4 linked regions of the Homo sapiens genome follow. The protein of the gene in region 3 binds, or shares a complex with, the protein of the main gene of each other region. Each region holds a gene or a part of one and is shown on either strand. Other genes may lie near its edges. The genes, in order: SMARCA4, SMARCC2, ARID1B and PHF10.

What was found.
Region 1: ARID1B (region 3) and SMARCA4 share a complex: the UniProt entries of both Homo sapiens proteins name them as parts of the neuron-specific chromatin remodeling complex.
Region 2: ARID1B (region 3) and SMARCC2 share a complex: the UniProt entries of both Homo sapiens proteins name them as parts of the neuron-specific chromatin remodeling complex.
Region 4: ARID1B (region 3) and PHF10 share a complex: the UniProt entries of both Homo sapiens proteins name them as parts of the neural progenitors-specific chromatin remodeling complex.

Annotation. Positions count from the first base shown.
Region 1 is NC_000019.10:10,956,303-10,964,029, reverse strand, and holds the start of SMARCA4 (SWI/SNF-related matrix-associated actin-dependent regulator of chromatin subfamily A member 4), read right to left. Parts: upstream 3,001-7,727; 5' UTR 2,856-3,000; intron 2,721-2,855; exon of another isoform or gene 2,301-2,720; intron 1-2,300. UniProt on the Homo sapiens protein: ATPase involved in transcriptional activation and repression of select genes by chromatin remodeling (alteration of DNA-nucleosome topology).
Region 2 is NC_000012.12:56,161,847-56,165,505, reverse strand, and holds the end of SMARCC2 (SWI/SNF complex subunit SMARCC2), read left to right. Parts: coding exon 1-188; intron 189-774; coding exon 775-1,203; intron 1,204-1,740; coding exon 1,741-1,817; 3' UTR 1,818-3,147; downstream 3,148-3,659. UniProt on the Homo sapiens protein: Involved in transcriptional activation and repression of select genes by chromatin remodeling (alteration of DNA-nucleosome topology).
Region 3 is NC_000006.12:157,200,344-157,207,377, reverse strand, and holds part of ARID1B (AT-rich interactive domain-containing protein 1B), read right to left. Parts: intron 6,674-7,034; coding exon 5,890-6,673; intron 3,513-5,889; coding exon 3,382-3,512; intron 1,212-3,381; coding exon 1-1,211. UniProt on the Homo sapiens protein: Involved in transcriptional activation and repression of select genes by chromatin remodeling (alteration of DNA-nucleosome topology).
Region 4 is NC_000006.12:169,707,474-169,714,507, forward strand, and holds part of PHF10 (PHD finger protein 10), read right to left. Parts: intron 5,067-7,034; coding exon 4,913-5,066; intron 2,919-4,912; coding exon 2,763-2,918; intron 1-2,762. UniProt on the Homo sapiens protein: Involved in transcription activity regulation by chromatin remodeling. Belongs to the neural progenitors-specific chromatin remodeling complex (npBAF complex) and is required for the proliferation of neural progenitors.

The sequences.
Region 1 (7,727 bases), on a different chromosome or scaffold from region 3:
CCTAAAGGGCTGGACACAAAATGATTTTAGGTGGCCCATGCAAAACCATTTATTACTTTCCTAACTATGCATGAATTAATTTTTATTCCTTTTTTTAGACAGGGTCTCGCTTCGTCACCCAGGCTGGAGTGCAGTGGCTCAATCATGGTCCACTGCAGCCTGTACCTCCTGCCCCAGCCTCTCAAGGAGCTTGGGACTACAGGGGCATTGCACTCCAGCCCGGATGACAGAGCGAGACTCCGTCTCAAAAAAAAAAAAAAAATCAAGTGTTCACTACGCATCAGGTGCAGCAGTGTGTTAGCGGCTTCCCATGTGACCTCATTCAACCCTCACAAGAAGCCTGTGAAGTTTCGGGCATCCTCGTCCTACCTGTTTCACAAGTGGGGGGCCCTACTGCTAAGCGCCTCGCTTGAGGTTAAGCTACGATTTAGAGAGCTGGGTGTGAATTCAGGAGGTCTGATTCCAGAATGAGTACTCCTTACCACCACCCCACGCTAACCACCACCCCACACTTTGTAGGGGAGATGAGGACAACTGAGGTTCAGGAAACAATGGCTTGGAAAGTGCAAAAACTGTTCAAACAACTAACCTGTATCCCTTACAATCCACCCCCAGTCCTGCACCAAGCTTTCTTTTTCTTTTTTTTTTTTTTTTTTTTTGAGACAGTCTTACTCTGGTGCACAGGCTGGAATGCAGGGGCACAAGAATGGCTCACTGCAGCCTCCACCTCTCTGGCTCAAGCAGTCCTCCTACCTCAGCCTCCTGAGTAGTTGGGACCACCGGTGCATGCCACCACACTCGGCTAATTTTTGTATTTTTTGTAGAGATGAGGTCTCACTATGTTGCCCAGGTTAGTCTCAAACTCCCGGGTTCAAGCAATTTTCCCGCCTCAGCCTCCCCAAGTGCTGGGATTTCAGGTATGAGCCACTGCACCTGGCCCTGCACCAAGCCTTTTACACAGATGGTCACGCGATCTTCCACAGGACCCCCTCATTCAATCCACATAAGTTCGCTAAAGACCTACTATGTGTCAGGCCCAGGGTACTGTGGGGCCAGCCAGGCAGACACAACCCCAGCTCTCACGGTGCTGGGGGTGACAGCTACACCGGAAAGGACCAAGTTGATGTATGAATGTAGCTGAGGGGAACAATGGCTAGTCCGAGGTGGCCAGGGAAAGTCAAAATACAATCCTGGCGCAGTGGCTCACACATGTAGTCCTAGCACTTTGGGAGGCCGAGGTGGGTGGATCACCTTAAGTCAGGAGTTTGAGACCAGCCTGGCCAACATGGTAAAACCCCATATCTACTAAAAATACAAAAATTAGCCAGGCGTGGTGGCGGGCGCCTGTAGTCCCAGCTACTCAGGAGGCTGAGGCAGGAGAATCGCTTGAACCCAGGAGGCGGAGGTTACAGTGAGCGGAGATTGGGACTCTGAACTCCAGCCTGGGCGACAGGCAAGACTCTGCCTCAAAAACAAAATACAATCCTACACACCCTCCCTGATTTTGAGGCCCCCTCTTCCAAGCAGCCCCCGTGATCTCTGGCTACCACCGATCCCCTGCCTGTCCGCTGTGTCCCTCTCACAGTGCAGGTTCAGAGCAATAAACGATAGGCCAAGAGAGTTTGTTCCCACATTTACCACCCGCTCCCCTCCAAGACTGCAGAGGCTCCAGGATCCAACCCCCGACCATCCAACACTTAGTAGGGCCTCAAGAAGTTATCTGCTGAACAATGAGGGAGATTGGACCAGACAATTACAATAGTGCTTCCCGCTTGCGAGGAACCATTTTACAGGCTTTCACCAATTCCATTTGGGAGATTACCCCCTTTCACAAAGGAGCTTTCACAAAGGAGGAAAACTAAGAGGTTCAGAGAGGTTAAGCCACTTCCCTAAAGTGACAGTGTGCTAAGTGACTGACAGCACCAGGAATCAAGCTTGAATGCAGCCTATCAATCCAAACTGAAAACTTGCTTCAAATTCCTGCGAAGCGGCTTTTCCGCTTATTCCCTTGCTACTTTCCCCAAGGAGTCACTGACCAAAAAAAAAAAAAAAAAAAATCAAGACTGGTATCTTCAAGATCGGGACAAAACACTCGCCCAAAAGGTCCACGTTGAAAATAAAAGCCTTAATCTGAAAAACCAATTGGGAAGGAGAAAAAAGGATGCAAAAGAAAAGCAATGCTTTTACACAGCAAAGGATTTCCTCCGTGCTCCCCTACTTGCCGCCGACCCCATCCCCAACCCCAATTCGGGCAAACATTTTGAAGTCACTAACTGCAAGGCATCGGGGGAGTCCTTTACCTTTCCTTGAAAATCTGGAATGACACGTTTTTAAGACAATTTGAGGTCGGCTAGCCCAAGGGGACCGCTAATGCCCGTGTCCGGCCGACGCCGGACATATCTGGAGGTTTGGCTGAGCCCCGATCGCAGCTTCGCCAAAAACGCAACATTCGGGTCGGACCCGTTACCACGCAGCCAGAAAAGCCCCAACGCCTGCCTATTGTTGCAGCCGCTGTAATTGGGAGGGCGACTGTAGGGGTGCCGGGCGAGGGGGGCGAGCTTTGTCCGGCGACCCCGGCGAGAGCGCGCGCGGAGAGGATCGCGCGGCCTCCACGCGGCCCGGGCCCCCCACCCACCCCGCCGCTCCGCGGGGGCCGCCGCTGCCACGGCCTCGCGACACTGTGGCCTTCCCCACGCGCGCGGCTGCCGGCTGGGCTTCTTGACCCTCGGGCGCCGCCGTACCCCGGCCCCGCACAGGGCGCGCCGGCAGCCCCCTCCCCCCTCGGCGCCCCGGCTCCATTCAAACCGCCCTCCCCGGCCCCGCGCCGCGCTGCCCCCGCGGCCCGCGTTCCTTACCAGGAGCCGCCGGCGCCGTCGACTTCCCGGCGCCTCCCCCGCCCCTCCGCGCGGGGCCGGGGGCAGAATGGGCGTCTCGCTTCTCTTCACGAAACAAAGAAGCCGCCGCCGCCGCCAAACGAGGGGAAGCCTCGCGCGCGCGCCCGCCCGCCTCGGCCACCGCCCCCCCTTCACACACACGCGCGCCACCCGCGCCCCCGCTGCGCGCGCGCTCGCCGGCTCCCCTCCCCCTCAGCACCGCGGCGGCCTCTCCAGCTTCCGCCGCCTGCCCGGCCTCGTGCGCGCGCCAGCCCGCCCTTCCGCTCCCGGCGCGCGTGCGCGCCCGTCCCTGGGCGGACGGGGGTGGGCGTGGCCCGGAGGAAGCACGCGCGTCCGATGCACCGCCCCACTCGGGCCGCGATGGCCCCGCGCCTGCGCACGCTTCGCCTTCTGCACGCCTCGCGTCTTGACGCCCCGGAGCATGCGCAGAGCGGACGCCACTGCGGCGGCGGTGGCGGCGGCCGCGGTGACGATGGGGCAACTGGAGAATGGGATCCCGGTGGCCGTGGGGTCCGTGGGGAAAGGAGGTCCCTGAGGCTCGGAAATAGGAACCCTGGACCGTAGGACGGGCCGCCTGGACCAAGACCGGGCAGTGGTTTCCCGCGGGCCAAGGGCGCGCCTGGGAACCGCTTTGATCCCTGACCTGGGGCGGCGAGGCCTATTTGGGGAGGCAAGGCGGGGCCCGACCGTGGCCGCCTTCTCTGCAAAACTTCCCAAGTGCCATTAATTAGCTTAGCAAATATTTATTGATCTGCTACTGTGTCCCAGCCGCCGTGGAGCCCTCGGTCTAGTGGGGAAGGAGGACAAGAAGCAAGATTAATAAGCAAAATAGTGCAGTATGAGAGGCCGGACTTGGTGGCTCACGCCTGTAATCCAGCACTTTGGGAGGCCGAGGCGGCCGGATCACCTGAGGTCGGGAGTTAGAAACGAGCCTGACCACCATGGTGAAACCCGTCTCTATTAAAAATACAAAAATTAGCCGGGCGCGGTAGCTCATGCCTGTAATCCCAGCACTTAGGGAGGCCTAGGCTGGTGGATCATGAGGTCAGGAGATGAGACTATCCTGGCTAACACGGTGAAACCCCGTCTTTACTAAAAATACAAAAAATTAGCCGGGCGTGGTGGCACACGCCTGTAGTCACAGCTACTCGGGAGGCTGAGGCAGGAGAATCGCTTGAGCCCAGGAGGTGGAGATTGTAGTGAGCCGAGATCGTACTATTGCACTCCAGCCTGGGCAACAAGAGTGAAATTCCGTCTCAAAAAAAATAAATAGTACAGTGTGAGGTGAACACTGGGAGGATCATGGACATTTTAAATAGGGCAGCCACGGAAGTCGTCGTTGCAAAGAACACGTTTGAATGCATACAGGCTGGTGGTGAAAGAGAGAAACCTTCCTCCGAGAGTGAAGGCCCTGAGCCTCTTGGCCTCTTCTGTGTGTTTTCTTTTTTGTGTGTTTGTTTGTTTGTTTGTTTGTTTGTTTGTTTGTTTTGAGACGGAGTCTTACTCCATTGCCCAGGCTGGAGTGAGGTGGCACGATCTCAGCTCACTGCAACTTCTGCCTCCCAGATTCAAGCGATTCTCCTGCCTCAGCCTCCCGAGTAACTGGGACTACAGGCGTCCGCCACCACGCCCGGCTAATTTTTGTATTTTTAGTTGAGACAGAGTTTCACCATGTTGGCCAGGCTGGTTTTTAACTCCTGACCTCAAGTGATCCGCCCACCTCAGCCTCCCAAAGTGTTGGGATTACAGGCGTGAGCCACCTCACCTGGGTGGGTTTTTGTTTAATTGTTTGTTTTATTAGAGACAGGGTCTTGCTCTGTAACCCAGGCTGGAGTGCAATGGTGTAACCACAGCTCAGTGCAGCCTCAAACTCCTGGACTCAAGGGATCCACCTCAGCCTCCCAAATAGCTGTGACTACAGGTACATGCCACCACCACCAGCTTTTTTTTTTTTTTTTTTTTTTTGTCTGTTATGTTCTGTAGAGCTGAGGTCTGCTGTGTTACCCAAGCTGGTCTCAAACTACTGGGCTCAAGCAGTCCTCCTGGCTCAGCCTCCCAGTGCACTGGGATTACAGGCATGAGCCACCAAGCCAGGCCCCAGAAGGACCTGGGTTTAAAACACGACTCCATTTCTACTACCTGGGTGATGCATGGGTAATACCAGGCAGGTTTACCAGAGCATCTACACCTCACTTTCTTCACCTGTGAAACAAACAATAAGGCTGGGTGCGGTGGCTGACATCTGTAATCCCAGCACTTTCGGAAGCCAAGGTGGGCAGATGACCTGAGGTAAGGAGTTCGAGACCAGCCTGGCCAACATGGTGAAACCCCGTTTCTACTAAAAATACAAAAAAATTAATTAGCCAGGCATAGTGGCAGGTGCCTGTAATCACAGCTACTCGGCAGGCTGAGGCAGGAGAATTTCTTGAACCCAGGAGGTGGAGGTTACAGTGAGCCAAGATCATGTCATTGCGCTCCAGCCTGGGTGACGAGAGTAAAACTCCATCTCAAAAAAAAAAAAAAAAAAAAAAAATGCTGGGCCCAGTGGCTCACGTCTGTAATCCCAACACTTTGGGAGGCCAAGGCAGGTGGATCATGAGGTCAAGAGATTGAGACCATCCTGGCCAATGTGGTGAAACACCATCTCTACTAAAAATACAAAAATTAGCTGGCTGTGGTGGCGCGTGCCTGTAGTGCCAGCTACTCAGGAGGCTGAGGCAGAATTGCATGAACCCAGGAGGCGGAGGTTGCAGTGAGTCGAGCGTGCCACTATACTCCAGCCTGGTGACAGAGGGAGATTCCGTCTCAAAAACAAAACAAGACAAAACAAAAAAAACCCACCAGAAACAATAATGGCTCCCACTTCCACTGTTTGGTTATGAGGAATCATGACAGCAGGTAGCCCACCTGCTAGCTCTCTGATCCTCAGCTAGTGTTATTGAATAGTGCACAGTAAGTGAGCAAGTAGAAGTGGGATCTGAACTCGATTCCTCATTCATTCAAGTAGTTATTTTTTTGTTTTTTTGTTTTTGTTTTTGAGACACAGGCTTGCTGGGTCATCCAGCCTGGACTGCGGTGGCACGATCAGTACTCACTGTAGCCTCGACCTCCTGGGCTCAAGCGATCCTCCTGCCTCAGCCTCCCGAGTAGCTTGGACTACAAGGGTGGGACACCACACTCAGCTAATTTTCTTAAAATTTTTTGTAGAGACAGTCACACTATGTCGTCCAGGCTGGTTTCAAACTCCTGGGCTCAGGTGATCCTCCCACCTCAGCCTCCCAAAGTGCTGGGATTACAGGCGTGAGCCAAGGCGCCCGGCCAAATAGTATTTCTTATGCTCTCTCCAAATGCTAAGCATTGAGCTAGGAATACCCTGCAGCAATGCATGGAGGAGGCAGGGTTGCTGCCCATGGAGTGGATGGTATGACTGTTCTCTAATTGTCTTTTATGCTAATCACACTAATATGCAATAGTGTAAAGAAAAACAGGCCGGGCCAGGCGCGGTGCCTCACGCCTGTAATCCCAGCACTTGGGAGGCCGAGGCAGGCGGATCACCTGAGGTCAGGAGTTCAGGACTAGCCTGACCGACGTGGAGAAACCCTGTCTCTACTAAAAAAATACAAAATTAGCCGGGTGTGGTGGTGCATGCCTGTAATCCCAGCTACTTGGGAGGCTGAGGCAAGAGAATCGCTTGAACCCAGCGGGCAGAGGTTGCGGTGAGCTGAGATCATGCCGTTGCACTCCAGCCTGGGCAACAAGAGCGAAACTCCGTCTCAAAAAAGAAAAACAGGCCGGTTGTGGTAGCTCATGCATGCCTATAATGGCAGTACTTTGGGAGGCCCAGGCTGGCAGATCACTTGAGGACAGGCGTTCAAGACCAGCTTGGGTAACATTGTGAAACCCCATCTCTACAAAGCAATACAAAATTTGCCAGGTGTCTCAATTAAGAGCACAGTTCTTAATAATGAACTGCCCCTGGGACCTTGGCCCCATGTCTGCATTGACACCCTTGGCTTCCAGACTTTAAAAAAAAAACATCTACAGGCTGGGCGCAGTGGCTCACGCCTGTAATTCCAGCACTTTAGGAGGCCGAGGCAGGCAAATCACAAGGTCAGGAGCTCGAGACCAGGTCAATATGGTGAAACCCTGTCTCAACCAGGCACGGTGGCTCACGCCTGTAATCCCAGCACTTTCTCTGGGATCGCAAGGTCAATATGGAGTTCGAGACCTGGTCAATATGGTGAAACCCCGTCTCAGCTGGGCGCAGTGGCTCACACCTGTAATCCCAGCACTTTGGGAGGCCGAGGCGGGCAGATCACGAGGTCAGGAGATCGAGACCATCCTGGCTAACACAGTGAAACCCCGTCTCTACTAAAAATACAAAAAAATTAGCCAGGCGTAGTGGCAGGCGCCTGTAGTCCCAGCTACTCAGGAGGCTGAGGCAGGAGAATGGCGTGAACCCGGGAGGCACAGCTTGCAGTGAGCTGAGATCCCGCCACTGCACTCCAGCCTGGGCGACAGAGCGAGAGTCTGTCTCTAAAAAAAAAAAAAAAAGAGAGACCCCGTCTCTATTAAAATACAAAAATTAGCCAGGTGTGGTGTCAAGCACCTGTAGTCCCAGCTACTCGGGAGGCTGAGGTAGGAGAATCGCTTGAACCCAGGAGGCGAAGGTTGCAGTGAGCCAAGATCACACCACTGCACTCTAGCCTGGGCGACAGAGACTCCATCTCAAAAAAAAAAAAAAAAGAAGGGGAGGAGAGGGCAGGGCAGGGGAGGGGAGGGGAGAGGAGGGAACGGGAAGTGGGGGAGGGGAATCATCCCAGAGGAGAATGG
Region 2 (3,659 bases), on a different chromosome or scaffold from region 3:
TGGCTTGGCTGTGGCTCCAGCCTCTGTAGTCCCTGCTCCTGCTGGCAGTGGGGCCCCTCCAGGAAGTTTGGGCCCTTCTGAACAGATTGGGCAGGCAGGGTCAACTGCAGGGCCACAGCAGCAGCAACCAGCTGGAGCCCCCCAGCCTGGGGCAGTCCCACCAGGGGTTCCCCCCCCTGGACCCCATGGTAAGTGTTATGTTCCAGAACTTTTGTTGGCTAGAGGAATCCAGGTGAATGTCCCAGTTCTCCTCAAAGGGGATACAAGATGAGTGTGGAGATGAGGTTAGCCTCAATTTCTACAGATGGGCCCATCTCTCTTAGGCCCCTAAATCAGCAGGAGTCCTTCCCCAAACTCGAGAGCTTTGGAATTTTATTCACTTACTCTAGTGTCAGAAAAGGGGAAGATAGTGCCAAGGAATGGCTAGATTATCCTTGTTTGTAAAAGTGAGTTATTCTTTGGGAGGCCGAAATGGGTGGATCACGAGGTCAGGAGATTGAGACCATCCTGGCCAACATGTTGAAACCCCGTCTCTAGTAAAAATACAAAAATTAGCTGGGCGTGGTGGTGCGTACATGTAGTACCAGCTACTCGGGAGGCTGAGGCAGGAGATTGCTTAAACCCGGGAGGCGGAGGTTGCAGTGAGCCAAGATCGTGCCACTGCACTCCAGCCTGGTGACAGAGTGAGACTCCGTCTAAAAAAAAAATAGAAAAGGTGAGTTGTTAAGCAAAATTTTATACCTAATTTTCTCCATCTCTCATCTTTATTCTCAGGCCCCTCACCGTTCCCCAACCAACAAACTCCTCCCTCAATGATGCCAGGGGCAGTGCCAGGCAGCGGGCACCCAGGCGTGGCGGGTAATGCTCCTTTGGGTTTGCCTTTTGGCATGCCGCCTCCTCCTCCTCCTCCTGCTCCATCCATCATCCCATTTGGTAGTCTAGCTGACTCCATCAGTATTAACCTCCCCGCTCCTCCTAACCTGCATGGGCATCACCACCATCTCCCGTTCGCCCCGGGCACTCTCCCCCCACCTAACCTGCCTGTGTCCATGGCGAACCCTCTACATCCTAACCTGCCGGCGACCACCACCATGCCATCTTCCTTGCCTCTCGGGCCGGGGCTCGGATCCGCCGCAGCCCAAAGCCCTGCCATTGTGGCAGCTGTTCAGGGCAACCTCCTGCCCAGTGCCAGCCCACTGCCAGGTGAGAAGGGGCCAAGAGGGGAGAAGGGTGAGGGAGAGGGGTCCACCTGGAGGGAGGGTGAGCGGGCAGGTGGGGAAGAGGTCAGGTATTAGAGTTTCCACAATCCTTTTTGAACACTCTGGTAAAATTAGAATACAGGAGGAAGGGCCTCTCTGGCCGTCCTCCACCATTCCCCAGCCTGGCAGCTGCCACCTTTGGGATGATGTTGGGGCCTTTCACTGGTGGGTCATGGAGCAATCCTGTGGCAGAGAGCATCTCAGTTGTAAACTTGAAAAGCAGCTGTTTGCATGATGATTGAGTGGCATCCCTTTGCTTATTCCTATCACGTTCAAATGCCCCATATAGAGAGTCTTTCTATATGTTTTTCTGAGTATGAGGTAGAAAAGAGTGTTGGGAACAGAAGTTGAACATTATGGGTACCTCATTCATCCACCCAGCCACTGCATGCCATGCCCGGTTCTGTCTGTCTGTGGTGGTCTGGGTCTGGAGCCATCTCTCCGGCGTACTCTAACTGATTTATCTTCCTTTTCTCCACAGACCCAGGCACCCCCCTGCCTCCAGACCCCACAGCCCCGAGCCCAGGCACGGTCACCCCTGTGCCACCTCCACAGTGAGGAGCCAGCCAGACATCTCTCCCCCTCACCCCCTGTGGACATCACGGTTCCAGGAACAGCCCTTCCCCCACCACTGGGACCCTCCCCAGCCTGGAGAGTTCATCACTACGTAAGGAAAGCTCCTTCCGCCCCTCCAAAGCCCTCACCATGCCTAACAGAGGCATGCATTTTTATATCAGATTATTCAAGGACTTCTGTTTAAAAGATGTTTATAATGTCTGGGAGAGAGGATAGGATGGGAATGCTGCCCTAAAGGAAGGGCTGGTGAAAGGTGTTTATACAAGGTTCTATTAACCACTTCTAAGGGTACACCTCCCTCCAAACTACTGCATTTTCTATGGATTAAAAAAAAAAAAAAAAAGTAGATTTTAAAAAGCCACATTGGAGCTCCCTTCTACCCACTAAAAAATAACCAATTTTTACATTTTTTGAGGGGGAGTGAGTTTTAGGAAAGGGGAATTAAGATTCCAGGGAGAGCTCTGGGGATAGAACAGGGCGCAGATTCCATCTCTCCCCAAGCCCCTTTTTAGTGACTAAGTCAAGGCCCCAACTCCCCTCCCCCACCCTACGCTGAGCTTATTCGAGTTCATTCGTACTAATAATCCCTCCTGCGGCTTCCTCATTGTTGCTGTTTTAGGCCACCCCAGCTCAGCCAATGATTCCTTTCCCTCTGAATGTCAGTTTTGTTTTTAAAAGTCACTTGCTTAGTTGATGTCAGCGTATGTGTATTTGGTGGGGAAAACCTAATTTCGGGGATTTCTGTGGTAGGTAATAGGAGAAGAAAGGGCACTGGGGGCTGTTCTCCTTCCTTCCCTGGGCTGTATCCATGGACTCCTGGAAGGCACAGAGAAGGGAGCTATAAGAGGATGTGAAGTTTTAAAACCTGAAATTGTTTTTTAAAGCACTTAAGCACCTCCATATTATGACTTGGTGGGTCACCCCTTAGCTTCCTCCCTCTCCCACCAAGACTATGAGAACTTCAGCTGATAGCTGGGGGCTCCCCAGATGAGGATGCAGGGATTTGGGAGCAGTGGAAGAGGGTGCCCAACCTTGGGTTGGACCAACCCTTGGCTCGCAGCTCAACTCTGCTTCCCGCATTCCTGCTCCACGTGTCCCAGCTTCTCCCCTGTGACGGGAAGGCAGGTGTGACTCCAGGCTCTGCACTGGTTCTTCTTGGTTCCTCCCACCAGGCCCTTTGTTCCTCATGTCCCCATGTTTCTCTCCCTCTGCGTCTTAGCACCTTTCTTCTGTTCAAAGTTTTCTGTAAATTTTCTCTTTTTTTCTTTCTTTCTTTTTTTTTTTTTTATAAATTAATTTGCTTTCAGTTCCATCTTGTGGGTGCATTCTGTGTTCTTACCTGTGGCTGTCAGGCAGGGGGATTGTGATGGGAGCAGCTTTCCTGGAGTCCTTCACAGCGGCGTTTACCTGGGCCGAAAGACACTCTGCAAGCCACACGGCCTACAGACACTGCGCCTCCCCACAAAACACGAACGGCAGCACAACTGTCGAGACTATGTGCTGGTATAGGAGCAGAGGCTCTCACCTGCCCTAAAAGCTGTTTAAGACTTGGAAGGACATTCCCACAACATGGAATTTTGTATCTCTGTCCCTTCAGAAGTAGTGGTTTCACTCCTTCCCTTATTAGAGAGGAGGCAAGCCCCTTACCTACTTTTGTTATAATTGGCCCTTCACCCTGCTGAGGTGACGGACAGGCTTAGGCAGTGCTAATAATGGCCTGGCTTTAGCTCCAATAAACACTCCACAGGCTTCCCCACAAAAGGCCTTATTGGGAGCTTGGGAGGGCGGGGGCCAGATTTAAGGAGCTGGAAGGGTAGGAGAAGA
Region 3 (7,034 bases):
TGAGGCGACAGGACCGAGTTGGGTCCCACAGTTGGAAAGGGATCTTGTGCCTCTGCAGACGGGCACACCATCCAGTGCAGCAAGCCATCCAAAATTGGCAAGCAGATGCTTTCCGTGTAAGCAGACAAGTCTAGCTGCCCGGAAATGTTGGCCAACGTGACCAACGTGTTATCCCTCAAGACCTCGAGGCAGTCCCACCACCACTCATCTTTGCTGCAGGCCACCCCCTTGTCCTCATCCTCCTCTTTCTCATAGGTCTGCGGTGCTCGCTTTCTCTCTGGATGCTCGTGGTGAAGAAGAATCAGCTTCCCCAGGATCAGCACCAGGCCTGGATGTTTGGACATTTCGGCATCATTGCCAGGCACGAATGACAAGCTACGGACAATATTGGACACACAGATGCATCGCTTAGCCAGCGAGTCCTGCCAGTGCGCGATGGTACACAGAGGAGTCTCGTCTCGGCTCCTGGGCTCGTCCTCCAGCAGCTTGATGTTCCGGTGACTTTTGGCTTGCTGGATACCAAAGGGAAACTTACTGCTTTCGGTCTGGGGCCCAGGGTTTGCGTCTTCAGGCAATGCCCCTGGCCGAGCAGAGAGGACGTCATCGATGGTTGCTATGATGCTTTTCTCTTGCTGCTCTTCAGAGTCGCCTTTGCCTTCTTGCTCTTTCTTTCTACCTGCGGAGCTTAAGGGGGGAGGTGGGCGCCTGCGAGGAGGAATTTCCATCTTGCTCTCAAAGTGAGTCTGAATGTGCTCGGTGGTGTCACCCCCGCCGAGCTGCCAGTGCAGAAGGCCACTATTGAACTCCTGCACACGCCCCAACTTGTCAGATCGGTCAACAACAAACAGGTTGTTCTTTTTGACTATCTTTATTGGCAGCTTGTCGAACTTACTGGCTTGCTTGGGCTTCTCCTTTGGGTCTGCAGCGGCGTCCGGGGCAGTCAGAGCGATGCTGCTCTTTTCATCGCTTTCTGTCTTCTCGCTGTCTTCCTCCTCATCCTCCTCGTCTTCCTCGTCGTCATCAATACATTCAGCATCTTCCTCCTCTTTCCCAGAATCGTCTGCCAAGGACTGGCTGTCATCCTTCCTTGCTGCGTTGTGATCAAGTGCTTTTTGGCTGGGGTCTCCCACTTCATATTCCATAAGAATTCCAAAAATGTCAATCAGGCATTTTCTAAAGTACTCGACTAAAAGTTCGAGAAATCCAGACAACTGGAGAGGAGGAGGAGGAGAAGAAAGAAAGAACAGGTACAATGTCATGACATCAGATATGACCGAGGAGGGTAAAGATCCTGAGACCCGTCAATACCTTTCCATCATTGTCACACGTTTGTCTCCCTTTTTGGCTGGACCATGAAAGATAAACTACCCTTCAGGTCCAGCGAACTTCCTGAATTTTACAGTATAAACTAAACCGATGTTTAGCATGTTCCTTATTTGCTGCTTCCTTGCTTAGACTATCTACACGAAAACTTACTTTTTATTCTCATATCTCTAATCTTATCACTGAGGGAGTGCCTTGCTGTTCTTTACCTTTCTGTTCCTGATTTAGAGACAATGTACTCATTATTAGAAGAGTGGGAACATGGATTTTATAGACTCTTTTGCCCAAAGTGACTCTGTTCTCTTCTATTATTTATCTGAGACTTGCTTGCCGGGATTTTTATGGTTGTTATTCTTAGGATTTTATGGTTATTTTTGTCTCAGGTACCATAGGTCACCCTAATTTATGTTCTCTATATATCTTTTGGAGAAGATAATTTCAGCAATGTGGTAGCTCATGAACACTGAAAATTAAAAACAAATCAATTTAGCCTATGATAAATAAATTAAAATGTTTCATAAAATGCAATTTTACATTTCAGTTATTTATGACTCTAGCTGAAAGGCAAAAACCACTATGAGAGAACCACTGACTACAAGAACAAGTTTGGTTTCCTTTAAGCAACTGTACCAAGAAAAAACCAATACACTTCACGATTAGCAACTGCCCTCTCTCCCAACACCCCCCACCATGTTTAGGAACTCTAAAGAGTAAGTAACAAGGATTCTAACAAGGATTCTTTCCCGGTAGATGTTCTGGAAATCAGCTATACCTTCATATCCTACTGTCAGTTTCTTGAAAGTAGAGTTGGAACAATTTTTAAGAAGTCAGGGGAAGCCCCCAGCACCAACTAGAAAGAACTGCTTTTAGTGTGCTGAAGGCACAATGTTCCAAGGGCATTTTCCCTTTTTTTTCCAGGGGAAAAGGGAAAGTTAATAAAGCAATTCTGGTTATGCAAATATGTGATCAACAACAGTTCACCTAACATAAGGATGAAAGCGCATTACTCTAGCAAATGCAGTATACAGTTTTTAAATACTTATTTTCTGTTAACACAGAACTCGTACAATGTTTATGACCTTATTAATAAACTTTCTAGCAATTGAAAAATTGCCTTTCTAGGCTGATAATGAGGGCTTAAATGAGAGAAGAAAGAAGTAGAAGATTCTGGTCTTATTTCCTTAGAAGCAAGGAAATTAAGTGTTTTAGTTTTTGCACTCAAAGTAGAGAGTTGTTTGTATACTATAGGGAAAATGACCTTTTTCCATTTTTTATTTCTAAATATTTCTTTAAAAGTCTATAGCCCAGTGGACTCGGGCATTTTCCCCAAACTTCAGTGCTCCTCTCTTCTAGCTATTATGCTGGAAGCTACCTGAAGCCTACCTCTGAACAAAGGAGGGGTTTAAGCTCATTAAAAGTAGTAGGCTTTTACATGACTGCTTCAAAATAACCTGGAGAGAGGCAGAAATGAGAGAGCATAGACTAAGAAGTAAGTTTAGCCATGAGTTCATAACTATTTTAGCTGACTGACAGGTACATGGGGGTTCATTAAACTGCTCTCTCTCCTTCTATATATATTTATACATTCTATAAATGTATAGAATATAAAATTTCTAAATCTTGAATATCTTTTTAATGAAAAGAAGATGTCAAGTCCTCCTGGAAAGCAGGGTTATGTCCCATTGCAACCAACTGTGTTTCCAATGCTGACTCCAGTCACAACTTAATGTTACATTTTGATTTCTTCCCATTGGCCAGCTAATATTCATTCTGAACAATTTAATGTTACTACTGTCATCTATCCCATATACACATACACACACAGTCACTGTTCTCTCATAAGAAATAGAGGTATGTGTGTGTACACACACTAAAGACTACAGTGAATATTATCCCAGATAACTCTACATTGATTAAGGCTGGTTGATAACAACTGCAGTGATTAACAGTGTTGGACGGTCAGTGCTCATCAACTCAGGCATTAGTTCAAGCACAAATGTGCATGGCCTGATGCTCTCCTATCCTAATTTGGTTGTTAGTTGGACTATGCTGGCTTACCTGGGAGAGATTGAAAGTAGCAACAGTGCTGTCATCATACAGAAGAATATTAATAGTGTCCAAAGCCCACGTACTCTCAGCCAAAAGACCTGATTTAAGGGACATCATCACACGCCACGCCTCAGGAGTAACTGAAGATGGGGAAGAACAAGGATATCATGAATGTTGACTCTATGCATGAAAGAACGAAAGTTAACGAAAGAGTAAGAAAAAATAAGTGGAGTGTTAAGTTAAATATTGACTTTAAACAAATGCTCTCAAGGACAGTTAAGCGTGATCATTTCCGATTTTAAATGGAGGCCATAGCTGTAACGAGAAACTTTTGTGGTTTCAGATCTCGCTTTGTTGGTCACGCAGGGGCCGAAAGTGCTTCTGGAGGTGGAGTGGTTGAGCACAGATGGTCCTTTCTCATGGCCGGGTTATTTCTTTCAGCCACCCTACAGAGTCTGCAATGTGGTATCAGAGCTTTTAATAAATGAGTCAAACCCAAAAGTGGTATTTGTCTTCTTTTGGCTTCACCACTCACGAGTGTCTCAAGGTGGCGTCCTGGAAGGCCGCCAAGTATGCAGAACATGGAAGCAAAATTTAACTCCAAGACAGCCTCCTCAGACACACGGCCTTGGCTTCCCAGGCTGCTTTCCTCTAGTCCTGTGCTCCTGCCCTCAGAACATGCTGTGATAAATATTAGCACTTTGATGGCTCAGATTTCTCAGGAGTATGGCTGGAGCCACAGAATGGGAAGTAATTTGTTGTTTTCCCTATTCCTGCTACTGAAGGAAACAAAATGATCAGGTAGAAAGTTTGGAAGATTTGCCATGAGACCCAGCTCGGCCAGATCCCTGGAGCTGCCTGGAGGCTGGGGGCATTCTCCAGGCACCAAGAATCATTGCATGAGGGGGAGACACCGTGGCTTTTCCACTTTTATTTTATCTGTTTTAAAATTTTCTAAGATAGCTACATACTGTTTTTACAATAAAAAAATCAAAATTACTTTTAAAAATAAACATGTAAATTTCCCTAGGTTGAAGACAAATGCTATATAACCCGCACTGGGAGATTTTTAGAAAATTTAGATGTATTTATTTAAACATACATATACACACATAAACACACAATACACGTGTGTGTGTGTGTATATATTTCTATATATAAAATGGTGCTCAGTGTCTGTGTCTCCTTCTCTCCCTCTGCAACCCCATATAAATACACACACACACATATTCTATATATATCTATATATCTATATTTATATCTATCTATATATATATATAAAGGGATATAGATACACATGCATTATATATAAATGGATAGATATATATAAAGGAATATGTGTGTGTGTGTGTGTGTATACAGTGGCACAGTCACTGCTGAAGCCTTGATCTCCTGGGCTCAAGTGATCCTCCTACCTCAGCCTCCTGAATAGCTGGGACTACAGAAATGAATCTCACTTTTGGCTAATTTTTTTTCTTTTTAGTAGAGACGAGGTTTTGCTAGGTTGTCCAAGGGTGGTCTCGAATTCCTGAGTTCAAGTGATTCTCCTGCCCTGGTCTCTCAATCTACATCTCCTTAATGTCCAGTGATTGATGTCTTTCAAATTATTAATATCTTTAATTTTCTAATCACTGAAAAAGATTTTAAGTCAATTTGTTCTTGATATTTTTTGAGTAATTTTTCCTAATATAACTCAGATCTATTATCTTCCTTCCTGTGTTAAAAGTACTTCAAAAATAATGCAGAAACCCTGTGTGTACTTCCAGATAGTCCAGACCTCTGATTAGTATTCAGAACATCCCACAGAGGATAAACAAGCAACATCAGCATTCGATTGACATGGTTCTTGGCCCAAGTCTACCAGTGCATTGGATGATATCAGTTCTATGTATCACAGCATAGCATATTCTTTATGTCATACCATCTATCAATCTACATATTACATACAAGCTTTAACTTTTTCCCACGGAAATTCACTGTATGTTGTCACCAAATTACAGAGTGGCTTGCCTTCAGATTTTCTCAGGTCACCTTTAGCATTTCATTAGCCTCATGGGGGGGTCTGTTAGGCACGTATTGTAGTGATTAAGTGGCTTGGTTAAGTTCAAATCTTTAAGCCCAAAATACAGCATATAACCACTCAGGATTCCCTGATCTCTTACTTGAAGCTCTAATCTTTCACACAAATAACATTCACACGTAAAACTACCATTTTATTTCACCGTGTTATCCAGGATGGTCTCGATCTCGTGACCTCGTGATCCACCCGCCTGGGCCTCCCAAAGTGCTGGTATTACAGGCATGAGCCACCGCGCCCGGCCAATCTTTCTGGCACTATTTCTTAATTCAGATTAGCAGCCTCCAACTATATTACTCCTATATAAAAACGCATCTTGATAACTTCTAGTCATAATTTTTTCATCCCTTTAAGATGAGCAGGAACAGCATCTTTACTAAAATTAAAATTCTACACTGCAACTGGAATTCATTTCAGAATGAAAGCTTTGGAATTCTTACCGATATCTTTGGAGGTAATCTTTCGCCTTTGTTTCAAGACTGGTTGTGATGCTTCTACTGAGCCAGGAGGAAAGGTGATCTCCCTTCTGATTGGGGGTGGTTGGGGTGGTGGCCCGGTGACCTGGGATGTGGGGACCGTGGGCATGACCTTCTGCATCTTCATAGACGGCAGAAAAGGAGACTTGCTTGGAGACATGCGGTTCTCCAGGGAGCGCTGGAAGGACGCTGGGCTGGGCGCCCTGGAGATGTGATTTGGCAGTGACGGTGGCGTCTGGTAGGACGGCTGTGGTGGGCGTGTGATGGGCTGCATGGAGGCTGAGGACGACATATAAGGCTGACGCTGGCTGACGTGAGAAGGCCACTGGCTCTCATGATTTATCCTCTGATCGGGTACCATCATATCGTCTGTGCGGTTCATGCCTGGGTAAGGGGGCGCCTGTGTAGGGCCGCCAGGGCCCTGCCTGTTCTGGTAGGGATAAGGCATATCATTGCGTGCTGCCCACATATTCTGCTGAGGCCCCTCACTGGAGGACGACTGCAGCGGGCCGCCCATCATCTGAGGCGGGATTCCGTGTGTCTGGATCTGCCCCGGGCCCTGCATCCTCTCCCTGCTGTAGGGATACGGGTACTGGCCCTGGATGGGCCTGCGGTCCGGGCCCGAGTAGGAGCCTCCATACTGGTTGTACATCTCCTGCTGCTGGCTGCTGTACTGCATGTTGTACATGTCGCCCTCGTGGCGCTTGGCTGGGGGCCCGTACATGCCGTCCATATGGCGTTTGTAATTCTGGAATTCACAGAAAGACAAATCATCCTGATGTGCTCTTACAGGTATAATCACACACTGAAATTATGCAAAATAGTTATTACCTGCTAGAATGTTCATTTCAAAATGAATATGGGAAGCTCCTATAACAACAGAGAACTAACAATTTATGTTCAATATTTCAGTATTATATACACCATGTCACACACTGAGGAGAGAGCATCCAAAGTTTGTTTTCACGTGTTTGAAACTTCCTGTGGAAAAAAAAAAGCCTCCTCTCCTTAGGCTGTGCCACCGGGACAGCCAGCGTTCAACTCCCACACAGGCAGACGGCTCCCGGGCTGGGAGCTGCACTAGGACCACAGCAGGAGGCAGAAGGACC
Region 4 (7,034 bases), about 13 Mb from region 3:
TAAATGTAAAAGATATACTTATTTAATACTAATAGTTTAAGTTAGATACTGGCATAGTAAATACTCTAATATCTTTCACTAAAGTCAGGGAAGTAACCAAACAATATTAAATTCTAAAAACAGAACTCCTCACAGGAGATTCTTTACAAAACAAAAGCCAAAAGGAGTAAAACACAAGGGTAGTCATTCACATTCTAGAGCAATTCAAGTTCTACAATCATTAAAATATACATTAAACACCTATGATAAAAGGGACACCAAAAAATTCTAGGTTTATTTCTAAGTTTAAATCATAATGATTTGTTAAATCACTTAGTTTTTCTTACCCAACAGCCTTCATCTTGATGAAAAGAGGGAAACATGAGAGAAGGGGAAGAGAGACAGCTTTGTAGCATTTTCTACGATGAATGCTGCAGCTCGATATACAAAGCATCTGCCCTCTCTAAGAAGCCACAGTGCTGGCATCCAGGACTTTACACAGCAGATAACAACTGTGGCTTAGAGAAGCCAGTCTCAAGTGGATTGCACAGTTGAGGGAGGGGTTAATGTGCAGCACTCTCCACAAGACCAATGGAGCACACTCCTATGTGTGTCTGGTTTAGACAATCAGTTCTACTTCAAATAACTGCAACATCATCAGAGTATCACTATTGACAAGAAAACTGAAATACTCATCCTAATAGCTCTCAGCATCTCAAATAAAAGGCTCACAGTACACTTACTTTTCTACTTGAAAAACAGCCAAAGATAAGACTTTCATGGTAGCAATAATATAGTATAGATTTTAATTATTGTATTTATAGGCCGGAATCCTAATAATTATGCTTTAAATTTCAGGTTAATGTAACCTAAACAATACTGTTCTATGAATTAAGGGCAAGCACTAGTGAATCTTATTAAGCAAAGCATCAGATACATTACTTCCTTGAATCTCGTACTTTTTATATATAAACTATGACCTTTAGCTTGAAGTACCCTAATATTTAGGCACATCTTGGTTTATTAATACTTTTTATAAAGAGGTTAACTTTTAATAAGCATGTTCACATTAATGTATGATGACTAGATACTGGTTGTTCCCATCTTTGAAATACCTGAAACATTTTTAGGTACTAAAAATGTTCACAGATTATGTAAAATATAAATTTTGCATATCCTACTTGAGTACTATTAAGTTCAGTTAATCCATATGATTTCTTGTATACTAAATCAATGATAGTGTTGAATAGCTGATTTCCAGCCTGTATTAAAACATCTATTTCAATATTCTCTCTTTTTAACCCATGATCAATCAAGCTTACTGTTGCAAAGATCTACTTAGCACTCAAGAGTTAACAGGACACTGTGCTTTGAGCGGCCACTTCCATTTAAAGCTCTTAGCAGACCAGTAGAACACACTCATTCATGTATACTGCTTCTGAAATTTCATCTTTGGAGCTCACTTGCTTTCAGTTATTAAGCATTAATTTATATAAAGAAATTACATAAGCTATATATGTAAAAACAAGTACAAAAATCACATAGCTGCAGCCTATTGCAGCCACCCTTGGAAGCCAACCCTTGCTGAATTAAGCTTAAAATTTGCTTGCTATAGGCTACAAAAAAAAAAAAGAATTTTTAAGTTAATTACATAAAAGCATTTCCTAATAAAATATGAAATACACTAACTTAATGTCGCTTTTTTTACTTGAAGAAAGGTAAATGAACATGTTAGAACGTGTTCTAGTTAGTTTGAGGGAAAGGTGACTTACTTCAGCCTGTTCTTGTGAATTATTTACCACAATCACAGTTCTGACATACAAGGTGTTTAACAATTTCACTTGGCAAAACTTTCTCATCAGCTTACTCTAAAATTTTCCTTCAATACACCTTCATAAGTGCAATAAAAGCATGTTCTAATACATTTCAGACCAAAAGAATCAAAAGGTAGTCTATTTTACTACCACCATCCCAAATATGAAACTGTACAGCTAATTCTTCCTTTTATGATATTCTTAAATCCCTATATGCAAATAAGGCTACTCATCTCTCACCTCACCTTTTCTTCAGAAGAAAAGGGAGGGGCAGACAGAGGGAGGAAAAGTTCAAAATATAATAATAGTTGCTGACAACCTACTCCTTTACTCTGAGGATAATCAGATCAACAAGTTAACAAGTATGTTTTAATTCTTGCCATAGAATCATATAGGCTCTTTACCAAGGTTATGCTAAAAATCACTACAATGTAAGTAACAGGTTTTATTATTTTCTATCCCAGAGTTAGCTAAATTTAGCATATGGATCAAATAATCCTTAGATTAAACCCAGATCTTTCTTAATGAAAGGCACTAAAAAAAATGCAACTTAGTCTAACAGTATATCCACTCATACTTTATAGCTCAGCAGCTTTAGCTACACTAAATGCTGGGGCATTTAAAATGCCAAATAATTATGATCTTTACTCCAAGGAAAGAAAATATAAACTTCTGCCTATGAAATAATGTTTTAAAAACCCATACTTGCCTGGTTATTCTTTCAAAGAAAAAAAAAGACTTATAAATTGTACATATACAGAAAACAGAAGGTAAACCATAGCCAAAAGTGACAGAAAAGCCACCAAGGAAATAAAGCAAAAAAGAAAGCAGCGGACAAAGGGCACACCATAGAAGAACAGCTAGTGAGGTACAGCAGGCAGAAGCTCCACAATCGTGAAAGTCAAGTTAAAATATTTCAGGGAGAGGCTGGTCAGTAAAGAAGCTGAGTCAGGGGCTTTTTTCTTCTACCTTGTACCCAGGAACTGACTTGGACAGTACAGAACGTTTGGGACCATCTTTTCTTGGAGTGGCAGCTTTGTCTTTTGATTTCTGTCTTCCCTGGAAAGAGTCCTCCTGGCTGTCAGGAGGGCTTTCCCCTTCAGATACATTGCCAGAGGAGCTGTCCTGGAGTTTAAAAGGCAAAAACAAAGATTCTTTGGAATTAAGACAAATTTGAGTCTGGATTTTGAAAACTATGGAAAATATTCAAAGAAAGTTTTAAAGCTTTATCATTTTAAAAATAAAAAGATCATTCTAAATGTAAGAAAGCTTTTTCCAGTGGAGACTAAAGTAAGTTATGTTAAAAATCATTCCTCCTTCTTCTAAGTATATTATATAAAACTGATTCCATATCAGTGCCTTCATCAACTTTGTTTTCTGACATAAGTCACAAAAACACAATTATCCGCTTCAGCTACTATTACGGCACACAGCTTCAACATCATTTTCCGTCACAAGGGAACATATTTGTTTCATACAAAAATATATTGTTACAAATAAGTGTGGGTATTTTCACTGAGTACTAAAAGTCATTAAGAAGGTCCTTCAGGAAAAATGAAGCGCTGCAGTTAGGAAAAAAAAAAAAAAGTCCTTCAAGTACACATTTGTGTTTTCACAATGTTAAACTATGCAGAGCCAATCCCTCAACTATCTACAACAGGATCTGAAATATTTTATATATTCAAGGTTTAAGACCTCAGTATCTGATCATTTAATTCTTCATTTTATAATTTAAAATGTTCTAATTAGAACTTTCATATAAATTACAAAAATTATAAATTAAAAAATTAGGTTATCTAGAGCCTCCCTGATAAACACACACTGACTAGAAACATGAATGTATCTACTTTATCTTTTTTCTGGGTGTCCACTTATATACATAAAGATACCGAGACTCACACATTACCCCCTACCTCATTGTGCCCTCATTTTTTAAAATACAAAACTGGATTACACTGTGTGTGTATGCATATGTGTATTTTGGTATTTTTTAAAAGCATTATGTGCATTTTCTCACAATCATTAAATATTCTTTGAACTGCATTTCTATCCTATAAATGTAATATAATATTACCCACTGTGGGCATTAAAATTTATTTGTAACTTCCAGCATAAAAAATACTGTCAACACTCAAATGGACCTTTTTTTCTAATTAAAATTTTTCAGCATCTGATTAAATCCTTAGGATAAATTCTACTAGTGGATTTGCTAGGTCAAATACTATGGAACTTAAATTGGTAAGACTGTCAAAATGCTTTCCCATAATGTTGGATTAGTTTACACTTTTCCTAGCAGTATGAAAGGAAGTCAGCTTCATCACCCTTTGCATGCCATAGCTCCCCTTTTAGCAACATGACAGGAGAAAAGTTGTGTCACCACTTTAATACTTGAACAGTATCTTATTTTGCATAATATGTATTATTAAAGATGTTTTAGAAGCTGTTGGTGACAAGGAAATAATGTCCATTCAATGGTAGCACAATCTCACATTTACATTGGCTTCAATGAAAAGTTTGAAATAGCCAGTTACTTAAAACACAATGCTAAAGAAATTCAAAGCCCTATGTCATCACTGGGATCAAAGCCCCAAACCATCATTGGGATTTTATTCTCCTTCAGGTGCACAGAATACACCAACTGCCCACTGTCTTGCAGGTGCATTTTGCTACAAAAAAAAAAGTCATACAGGAAAACCCAACAAATTGTACAACATATTACTAAACATAATATTTTCCTATAGGAAGCATAAGATTAAGCAAATGCACTCCCCTCAACTAAGAAAACTACATTTCTGTGTCAAGAGATCAAATTCTGTTTTGTTCAATATTTTAAGCTAAAGAGACAGCAAGTTGAATAAATGATTGTAAGCTAATTTTCCATACCCTTGCCTAAACTGCTCATGGTAACTACAAAGGGGCGATTTTAAGCATAAAGCTTACCAAAGGCCATTCACTGCTTGTTTTTATCAAAACATACTATAAGTAACTTTTATTGATGAATACTTTCTGGAAATTACATGCAACCATCCTTTTTCAAGGAGAGGGTGATGACAGAAATTCAATGTAACAAAAATTCAAAGAGAAAGGAAATGCTTCCTACTAGAGAGAAATGTTCTCACCGAAGTGCCTTTATTTTTCCGTTTCTCATCACCTCGACCATCTTCGCCATCATCTGAATCACCATCACTGTCTAGAGCAGGGAGCTCAGGATCCAGAGGGGGCTCATACAGGGCTGTGTTTAATGGCAGATACCGCAGCTCATCTGGTGAGTACCTGAAGTTCAGAGAGTTTATTTTTGGTTTCCCTTTATTATTAAATATAAACAGACTCATCTTTGACCTATGAAGATAGCCTTAAACTTCTTGAGTAACCCCGAAGACTTTTGAAAACTAGAGTACTAATTTTTCATTTTTGTCATCAAGTAGGGTTAATAAAAAGCCTGAACATCTTTTCACTAGACTTATGTAAAATATGCATTTGATTCTTACTAAGAGATAATGTGCCTCCCCTCTTTGCCCTCAACCCAAAAAAAGAAAAAAGTAAATAAAATGTCAGCAGCCCCAAGTCTGGCTGCCAGCTCACATCCACCTCGACCACTGTCCCAGGTCTTTGCTACTTCTCTGTGCTGTCACTCCATTTGTAAAACAGACCTAATAATAGCATCTACCGCATACAGTTGATATATATGCATTAACTTATTTAATGCATACATATCACACCAGTGCATGGTACATGATATTACTTAAAATAATAACATAGAAAGCAAAATTTTTAGTAACCAATTATTGTAAACAAATTTGGGAAGCATGTATTCTAACAAATTTAATCATCTATTTTGTCTGAAACTATATTGGCAATCTCTTCCCCTAGGTCAGACAGCACTGCTTCGTGCCACCTCCATTCTCACCCTCAGTAGCCCCCATTCAGGAGGCAACCCTAGATGAAGACTTCTCCAACTAAGACAACACACCAAAAAGCAAAGGGGTTAATATACTTGCATATGACTTTTAATAATTTGCTGATGCCAAAATAAAATTTTTAAAAATTAAAGGCCGGGTGCAGTGGCTCACGCCTATAATCCCAGCATTTCGGGAGGCCAAGGTGGGCAGATCACCTGAGGTCAGGAGTTCGAGACCAGCCTGGCCAACATGGTGAAACCCCGTCTCTACTAAATATACAGAAAATTAGCTGGGCAAGGTGGCGGGCACCTGTAATCCCAGCTACTCGGGAAGCTGAAGCAGGAGAATCACTTGAACCAGGAGGCAGAGGTTGCAGTGAGCCGAGATCGCGCCACTGCACTCCAGCCTGGGCGACAGCGTGAGACTCCATCTCAAAAAAAAAAAAAAAAAATTTGAAGAAAAACTTTTAAAAAATTGCTGCTCATGATTTAAATTTGAATTTAAAAAATCTTTTTTTATTTAAAAAATTTCTGCCCAAGATTTGACTTTCAAATGGTGTGAGTTATGATACTATATTTTAAATTCTATTCTCTAAAAAATAGTATATTATGAAAAACATACGGTTCCAGAGTAAGGCTTAAGGTTGAAGTAAAAGCTGAGACTTTAAAACAAAATGGGCTGGGCACAGTGGCTCACACCTTTAATCCGAGTACTTTGGGAGGCCAAGGTGGGCGGATCACTAGGTCAAGAGATCAAGAGCATCCTGGCCAACATGGTAAAACCCACCTCTACCAAAAATACAAATAATTAGCTGGGCGTGGTGGCATGTGCCTGCAGTCCCGCTATTTGGGAGGCTGAGGCAGGAGAATCACTTGAACACAGGAGGCAGAGGTTGCAGTGAGCCGAAATCACACTACCACACTCCATCCTGGGTACAGAGCAAGACTGTCTCAAAAAAAAAAAAAAGAATCTGTTAGCCCTGTTTTTTTCAGTTACATTTAATTTGGGAATAGGAGATAAGTAACATTTAGGGTCCATATTGGAGCAGCAGCCAGGCCAGGTCAGCAATGTGGCTGGGGCACCCAGTTGCCCATGCCTGCCCCTCTCCGCTCCTTCTCTCATCTTCTCTGCAGTAAAAGTCAGTGTTTCTCAAACTCTAACCTGCACATGAATCACACAGACATCTGTTAAAATGCAGACTCTGAGTCATAGGTCTAGAGTTGGGCCTGAGATTCTGCATTTCCAACAAGCTTCTGAGCAATAACAGTGCTTTGGACCACGGAACATACCCTGAGCAGTGAGGTGCTACAGAACCCCCAGCATCTGTCTCTAACAAACCCAA